Linked DNA regions of Homo sapiens: region 2 is linked to region 1. The links come from fine-mapping of genetic effects on gene expression. A gene starts in region 1. The other region holds a variant in brackets. All regions are shown on one strand. Distances are between the middles of the regions.

Region 1 (4,384 bases):
GGGCTTGGAGGGTGGGGAAACCTACCTAGCTGCCCCCGAAGGCCTTTGACTTCTTCCTCCAGCTGCTTGCTGCGGGTTTGCATATCCTCCTGCAGGGCATGGCACTGGCGACTCATCTCTGGGGTGGGGGCAGTGGGCCACCAGGGACCCAGGTTGGAGATGGAGGGATGGAGAAAGGAAATGAAGTTGTGGGTGGGGAAGACTCTACTTGGTCTAGTGGAACAGGAGCACAAAGGCCTTCTTGGTTCTTTTTGTGATTCTGAGAAGCTGCAGACCATGAAAACCTGAGGAAGGGACAGGAAGCCCGACCTACCTCCCCCAGTCCAGCTTTGGATGGGGATGCTAGCCCTTCTCCCCGCCCATGGGCTGATTGAGATGATGGCTATGACTGCATGTGTATCCTACACAGCATCAAGCACATGGCACCAGGCATCCTGGAAGGCCCCTGCCTGGGATCCCAGGAACCTACCTGCCTTTGGTTCCTGCAGGATCCTTCCTGATTTGTACTGTTTGGGAAAGACCAAGACCAGGCCTGGCAGTCGGAAGCCCTCCTTGTTTCCCTTCCTTGCATCAACTGACCCTGTTGGTTGTCCTCCTCCAAGCCCCTGTCTCCTGCCCACCTGCTTAACCGACCACACACCTGCATATATGGCCTTCCCTTCACTTCGGGCCCCTTCCAGCTCAGCCTCCACCCCTTGCAGCCTCTGCCTCAGCTGGTCTTCGGAAGCCTTGGCTCGACGGGCTTCATCCCTCCGTAGAGCTGTGAGCAGTCCCAGAGCCGCCGTCAGGACTGGCTGGGTCCCACTAAATCAGCCCCCATGAACGTGATGGACTTTGCCCACCTCTAGAAATCTGGTGGTGGGGTGTCCAGCCTCTTACTCTCTCTCTGGGTTTTGTTGTTTTTGTTTTTTATCCCTAGAGTCTCACAGGCTCCTCATTATTAAGAAGTAAAAACTCCCTCTATGTTCTTTTCGGATAGCCTGGCATGGTGGCTCATGCCTGTAATCCCAATATTTTGGGAGGCTTAGGTGGGAGAATTGCTTGAGGCCAGGAGTTTGAGACCTGCCTGGGCAACAGAGTGAGACCTTGTCTCTATAAAATAAATAGGGCCAGGCGCGGTGGCTCACGCCTGTAATCCCAGCACTTCGGGAGGCCAAGGCTGGTGGGACACAAGGTCAAGAGTTCGAGACCAGCCTGGCCAACATGGTGAAAACCCGTCTCTACTAAGAATACAAAAATTAGCCAGGTGTGGTGGCCACGTGCCTGTAATCCCAGCTACTCGGGAGGCTGAGGCAGGAGAATCGCTTGAACCTGGGAGGCAGAGGTTGCAGTGAGCCGAGATCACACCACTGCACTCCAGCCTGGGCGACAGAGCACAAGACTCTGTCTCAAAAAAAAAAAAAAAAAAAAAAAAAAAAAATAAATAAATAAAGTAGCCAGGCATGGTGGTGTGCACCTGTAATACCAGCTACTCGGGAGGCTGAGGCGGGAAGATTGTTGCGGCCCAGGAGTTAGAGATTACAGTGGACTATGACCATACCACTGCACTCCAGCCCGGGCAATAGAGCAAAATTCTGTCAAAAAAACCAAAAAAAACAAAAAACAAACAAACAAAAAAAACACCTTCCTTTATCAACTCTCACTGCCCACCCTCTCTCATCATCTTTTTCCACTAGGGGATGGTTAGGGTCAACTTAACCCCCCACCATACCTCCAACTCTCCAATCCCCCAGGATACAGAAATGCCCCATTTCACTTCCCCTGTTGCCCACCCATGCCAGCTTCTACCCTCCTTACCCAAGTGGTCTCGGAGCAGCTCCTTCTCCAGCACCACCAGCCTGTGCCTGGACTCGGCCACCACATCTGCACCTGCGGTGGCAAGTGGCAGAGCCTCAGCTCTTCATGATCTCAGCATTCCTCACTCTGCTCACATCCTCACCCCACACCCTGCACTTTTGCCACAGCAGACCTGAGGACCACTAAATGAGGTATCCACAGTGGCAGAGTCTACTGAAGTCAGCACCGTGTCCTCACCGACCAGCACATAACAGATATGCAAAATACACATGACAAATATATTAGGAAGGCACAGAGCTAGATGGGGCTTAAAGGAGAGCGTGGGTGACCATTTCCCCACTTCCTCAGCTCCCTGGATCTGGCTGTGAGGACATGAAAGAGGTAGGTCAAGAGAGCTCCATCCTGTCCTGCAGAAGGCTGAATTCTCTCTGGAGGAGCTCTGCGTGGTCTTCATGGCAGAACATGGAGAAGCAGGGGGCACCTCCACCCACCATGACTCACCCCAGTTCTTTTTCTTCTTCTGTGCCCCAGATTTCTTCCCTTTTTCTTTGTTTTTAGGTGGCATCTCCTTGCTGTCCTGGGAGAAGGAGGGGACCTTATGTTTAGGTCTGGACACAGGGATGCTTTCCTGAGCTTTAGACTGAACCAGGAGACTCTCCTGAGTCCAAATTTGTCTCTCATATCCTTCAGAAAAGTCAGTTCACAGTCTCTTTGGAACCTCAGACAGGGTTGGGGTCAGTGGGGAGGATGGAGTTTTTTCTCTCAACCAGGCTGACTCTGTACAGAAGTCATTCCTTGCAACTCTCTTTTAGAGAAACGAAATCCCTGTACCTGCTCCCCTCCCTCTTCCCATCATCCTCAACCCTCACTTCCTACCTGTAGGATCCTCTCCTGCCAGCGTTGGGGCTCCCCGTGGAGTGACCCACTCGTGGGGAGTGGCAGAGAGAAGGCCCAACTAGCGAGGAGCCTGAGGCGGGGCCTGGGTCCTGGGAGCCAATCCTTGGTGGCAAATTTCTCTTGAGGGCAGGACTGAGGGCTGGAAGGTTGGGTTTCCAGAGGCTGTATGTTGTCCAGGCAACTGGGAAACATGGAGTTCACAGGAAGGTGGAATGGGCTAAATCAGCTCACAAAGTTTAAAATATCAAGGTCTCAAAGGGTCAGTTCTTTCCTTATCCCAAAATCCTAAGTATAGTTTGAAAAGAAAGGGCTTTGGAGGTCGATTAGTTATGATTCATTGCCATGTAGACATGGCCTGCAATTTGGAGACTTCCAAATTCAGATGTACACATCTGAGATAATATGTGGTGCTGATACAGAGGAAAAGGACTGACAGTAGCCATGTTGGACAACTGACATCCCGAGGTCCCACCAGCAAAATGACATTAGTAGGCTTAAAACTGAAGATCTAAGCTGGGGCGGTGGCTCGTGCCTATAATCCCAGCATTTTGAGAAGCTGAGGCAGGAGGATTACTTGAGGCCAGGAGTTCGAGACCAGCCTGGACAACACAGTGAGACCTCATTTCTACAAAAAAATTAAAAAATTAGCCTGGTGTGGTGGTGCACACCTGTAGTCTCAGCTACTTGGGAGGCTGAAGCAGGAGAATCACTTGAGCCTGGGAGGTTGAGGCAGCAGTGAGCTATGATTGCACCACTGCACTCCAGCCTGGATGACAGAGGGAGACCCTGTCTCAAACAAACAAAACTCCCAGACCACCGAAGATCCTCTTCAGTACACTGTAGAATGAGGGTAATAAGTGCAGGAATAGGTAGTCCAGGGAGTTTCCCACTTCAGAGAAATGAGACGCAGAGGAATAGTGGACCCATGGACTCTAGGGTACTGACCTAGAGGGATGCAAGTGTGGAGGAAAGAGCTCAGGTTAGAGACAAGACATGTGAGTTTGAGTCCCAACTGTGGATATGTAAACTGAGGCGAGCCATTTGACTTTGCTCAGCATCAGTTTCCTGATCTTTAATTGTTTGATTTTGCAGCTCTTGAAAAGCCTGTGTTTTAGCTGCGTGTTTACATGGCTATCTTCTCTCCTAGTGACTTAATCTATTGCTACATTTCCCCATTCCCTTGTGTGGTTGATTTTCAGACAGGTGTTGAGACATTGCTTTGTGAGGCTCCCTGTAGCATAGAGTTGGTTGGGGCTCCCTCTAGTGGACTTGTTTGACCTTCTCCTGAGTTTCCTACATTTTTGCTTTTAAATTATTTACTGGGCAACAGTGGGGGTGACTCCCTTTGGGGATACTTCTTAGCGTCCTGTTTGAGCCAGGAGTGGCTGGAAGAATTAACATTGGGGAGAGAGTATGATGGGTGGCCCTCCCTTGTCAGGCAGCCCTCACTTTCCCTCCAGCTCTGTGCTATCCTGGAGGCTTGCCATTTATCTGCCACTTGGATCTCTGGGCACCATACTGGTTAGAGTGAAAATAGCAAAAACTTCAGGACTTTTCTCCTTTTGGATTAGGGGACCTGCAGACCCTTTCTTTTCTTTAGGTTTCTTTTTTTTTTTCCCGTGTCTCTCTCTGTCACCTAGGCTGGAGTGCGGTGGCATGATCACGGCTCACTACAGCCTCAGTCTCCCTG
Region 2 (4,384 bases), 81 kb before region 1:
GAGAGAGAATTTGGAGGCCAGGAGAATCTGATTGGAGCATTTATGCCGTTTTATTTATGTACACAGCTCTCTGCCTCTGGCCTGTGATCCACTCAAGTGTGGGTTCAGCTTGCTAATTTTCTCCTTCCTGCCCCATCTCCTCTTGTCCCACAGGGATCTGGGCCCCCAGAGCCGGGAGCTGACCCTCAAAGTGCTGAGGAGCAGCAGCTGTGGAGACAGTAAGTGAGGGGTGGGAGGGGCACCCCTGGGTGGGTACAGAGTGGGGTCTGGCCATGGGCCCAGCTCACAGTGCCATCCCTTTCCCCAGCCGAACTCCTAGGCCAGGCCACACTGCCTGTGGGCTCCCCCTCCAGACCACTGTCTCGAAGACAGTTGTGCCCACTCACCCCAGGGCCAGGGAAAGCCCTGGGACCAGCAGCCACCATGGCAGTGGAGGTGAGAAGCTGACCCCTGGGGTAGGTGGGAGGACACAGGGGATGGGCAGTCTCCGAGGCTCTGTCTCTTCTCTCTCCCACCCCTGGGCAGCTTCACTATGAGGAGGGCTCTCCCCGGAACCTGGGTACTCCCACCTCCTCCACTCCACGCCCCAGCATCACACCTACCAAGAAGATTGAGCTTGACCGGACCATCATGCCCGATGGCACCATTGTCACCACAGTCACCACTGTCCAGTCCCGGCCCCGTATAGACGGCAAATTAGGTAAAGAGAAGGAGCCTGGGAGCCCAGCTCTAGCCAGGGGCCCGGGACTGCAGACCCAAGGCAGGACAGTGAAAGAGGAGAGAGCCTTAATTCCAACTCCCCCTGTTTTCAGACATTCCATTCCAGTCCTACCACATCTTCCTCCCAATCTTTGTCTCTTCCAAACTTTCCCTTACCTCCTGCCATTTCCCCAGCAATTCCTCTCACTCTGCCACCCTTCTGGATCCTCCTGCCCCTCCTCATACAGGACTGTTGCACTCCTACCTTCCAGCTTCCCCTCTGGCTTTTCACAGGTGTCCTTAGCCCCAGCTGACTATAATTGTCCATCCTGCTACCCTCAGCCCTCCAGCACCCCCTGGGGTCCTCCAACAAACCCAGAGGCCTCTGTGGCATTTCTACCCCACTCAGTGGGCCCCCATGGCACTTCTGCCATTATAGGGGCCCCACTGAATTGCCCCAACTTCAGGGAGCCCCAGTACCCCCTCTGTCCCCGCTCCATATTTTCATAGCATCTCCCCACACCTTCAGCAGGCCCCATGGCACTTTCCTACACTCCCATTAGCTCCTGGGGTGTCTTTTAGTCCCCACGGCATCTTCCTAATCACCCTTGTGATTAATCACCCTTTAATCATTCTTGCCCTCTGAGTCACCCAAAGTCTGCATCTCAACAAAGACAGTAGGGGTGGGGGCCACTCTGAAGCAACTCCCAGCTCACTGACCCTCCCCCACCCACCAGACTCCCCCTCCCGCTCCCCGTCCAAGGTGGAGGTGACCGAGAAGACGACAACTGTGCTGAGTGAGAGCAGTGGCCCCAGCAATACCTCCCATAGCAGCAGCCGTGAGTGGGGAATGGGGTGCATGAGTGTGGGTTGGCCCTGGTGCCCCAGCATCAAAAAGTACTCTGGGTGGGATAGGAGGAGTTCCAATCCAAGAAAGAGCCAGGGAGAAGTCAGGTTATTCATTCTCTGCACCCCTAGCAGGGGACAGCCACCTTTCCAACGGCTTGGACCCTGTAGCAGAGACAGCGATTCGCCAGCTGACAGAGCCCAGTGGGCGGGTGGCCAAGAAGACACCCACCAAGCGCAGCACTCTCATCATCTCTGGTGTTTCCAAGGTAACAGGGCTCTGGGGAGAGGAGCTGGGATGGGGAGAAAGCCCTAATGGGTCGGTCACTCCTGCCCATTAAAACCCGTCCCTCCTGCCAGGTGCCCATTGCTCAGGACGAGTTGGCGCTATCCCTGGGCTATGCGGCATCCCTGGAAGCCTCAGTGCAGGATGATGCAGGGACCAGCGGAGGCCCCTCTTCACCTCCCTCAGACCCACCAGCCATGTCTCCAGGACCGCTAGATGCCCTCTCTAGTCCCACAAGTGTCCAGGAAGCAGACGAGACAACCCGTTCGGATATTTCTGAGAGGCCATCTGTGGATGATATTGAGTCGGAAACGGGGTCCACTGGTGCCCTGGAGACCCGCAGCCTCAAGGATCACAAAGGTAGGGGGACGTTGGCAGGGTGCCCCTCATCTCTTCTTTTATACACATATCATGACCTGGGGGACCTCGAGCCAGTGTGCCTTCTCCTTCCTCCCCTAAGAGATAGCCGGATTCCCAGCCTAGTTCAGCCAAGCTAGCCTAGAGGGGGATCTTGGTGCCTTGGTTCCTGGCCTAGATCTGACATGCTTGTGATAGGAAGGGATGCCAAATTATTTCCCTTTACCTCCATTGTTCTTTCTTCCTGAGTCT[A/C]AGTGCCATTTTTCCTGCCCTTTAAAAAAAAATTATAAAAATTTATTCCTAGGCAGGGTGTGGTGGCTCACACCGGCACTTTGGGAGGCCAAGGCGGGTGGCTTACCTGAGTCCAGGAGTTCAAGACTAGCCTGGGCAACATGGCGAGACCCCATCTCTACTAAAAATACAATAAATTGGCTGGGCGTAGTGGCACACACCTGTAATCTCAGCTACTCAGGGGGCTGAGGAGGGAGGATTCCTTGAGCCTGGGAGGTTGAGGTTCAAGGAGGTTGAAGCAGTGAGCCGTGATTGTGCCACTGCACTCCAGCCTGGGTGACAGAGTGAGACCCTGTCTCAAAAAAAATTTTTTTTTTCCATGGCTGGGCACGGTGGTTAATGCCTGTAATCCTAGCACTTTGGGAGGCCAAAGCGGGTGGATCACAAGGTCAGGAGTTCAAGACCAGCCTGGCCAACATGGGTAAACCCCATCTCTACTAAAAATACAAACATTAGCCAGACGTGGTGGCAGGCGCCTATAATCCCAGCTACTTGGGAGGCTGAGGCAGGAGAATCGCTTGAACTGGGGGGTTGGAGGTTGCAGTGAGCCCAGATCATGACACTGCACTCCAGCCTGGGTGACAGAGTGAGACTCTGTCTCAAAAAAAAAAAAAAAAAAAAAAAATTCTTCCCTTTCAATCTGCACCCTCTCCCCAATGAGTATAAGAAATCCTACCCTTGGATTATCCATCTGGCAGCAAGACAGGCAGTGACCAGTGGTGGTAGTTCTTCTAACTTTAAAAGATGAGAGGCTCACCCTAAAACATCTTCATTCCTCTACCAGTGAGACTATCAACCATGGATCTATCTATCTATTTTTTAAGCCTGCATCACTTCTTGAGATAATGAGGTTTCTACCTCCAAAGCCTGCTGGGTGAGCACCTTGCTCATTATACTGGTTCTGAATTTACCTCTTTGAAGTTTCTAGATGCACCACTTCCTGCTCACAGCCTGGAATTCGGTTAACAAGTCAGTGTCAACCTACCTTTCCCTTCATGATTTATAGACTTTTGGGAGTACCTTCTGGTAGCTTTTGTCTTCCCATAGGAAAGAGGCCCAATCCCAGTTTGTCCTCACAAAGCGGCCAGCTCCGTGATATCTCTTTTGCGGGCAGAGTTAAGATTGTACACAGATCCCCACAAGTACCACGATTTTTGCCTCAGGAAGGATAAAGCACATGTTTGTTTCTGCTTTCGTTTTCTTTTTTCTTTTTTTCACGAAGCCTTATGGAGAAGTATGTTTCTGCTTTCTTTCCTGAGGAAGCCTGGCTTCTGGGCCACGGGACTGATCCTGTCCACATCCTCTTTCCCTCCATTCTCCATCGTGTCTCTGCCCCCGTCTCACCCCACCCCGTGCCCCTCTCTGCCTCAGCTTCCCCTCTTCCCCTGCAGTGAGTTTCCTGCGCAGCGGCACTAAGCTCATCTTCCGCCGGAGGCCTAGGCAGAAGGAAGCTGGCCTGAGCCAATCACACGATGACCTCTCCAACGCAACGGCCACGCCCAGTGTCCGAAAGAAGGCCGGCAGCTTTTCTCGCCGCCTTATCAAGCGCTTTTCCTTCAAATCCAAACCCAAGGCCAATGGTAACCCCAGCCCCCAGCTCTGAGGACCCAGCTCTGAAAGGGCACGAGTTCTCTCAGCCCATTCCCCACCTCCCCTTCCATACCCCTTCCTGGATCTCCAGTGCCTGGGCCAGGAAAGCCCTCTGGGTTCCGGGAAGCCCCGTCCACCCTGGGCCATGGGGCCGGTTGGAAGGATACTTGGAACGGGAAGCACATGAGAGGTGGGCACCCGGTGCCGAGGACATGGACGAGGGACTGGTGGCTGGGAGGGAGAGGAGGGCCCTGTCCGGCATGTGTGGGTATTCCCCAGAAGCATTTGCCTCCTGCTGAGCCTGGTCCCTGAGCG

Direction of the effects. Positions count from the first base shown, and alleles are read on the strand shown. Sizes are in standard deviations (SD) of each study's normalised expression.
As copies of C replace A in region 2, the expression in pancreas of the gene that starts at base 2,716 in region 1 goes up (moderate effect, 0.48 SD a copy in GTEx).

The links. PIP is the estimated chance that this variant, and not a neighbour inherited with it, causes the effect. A credible set is the group of variants that fine-mapping cannot tell apart.
Region 2: its variant is the best candidate, but not a certain one, in a credible set for the expression of DRC12 in pancreas (GTEx, PIP 0.68).

Annotation. Positions count from the first base shown.
Region 1 is chr11:119,193,126-119,197,509 of GRCh38, forward strand. DRC12 (dynein regulatory complex subunit 12 homolog) reads right to left here and starts at 2,716. Exons shown (of 7, transcript NM_001145018.3): 1 at 2,674-2,716; 2 at 2,299-2,374; 3 at 1,798-1,869; 4 at 641-760; 5 at 26-118. The coding sequence starts at 2,362.
Region 2 is chr11:119,112,175-119,116,558 of GRCh38, forward strand. C2CD2L (C2CD2 like) reads left to right here. Exons shown (of 14, transcript NM_001290474.2): 8 at 154-218; 9 at 308-435; 10 at 526-700; 11 at 1,437-1,538; 12 at 1,681-1,814; 13 at 1,906-2,191; 14 at 3,871-4,384. The coding sequence ends at 4,082. Among named protein-coding and RNA genes, the nearest start is that of C2CD2L, 7.0 kb to the left of the region's middle. The variant A/C (reference allele first, on the strand shown) is at 2,441.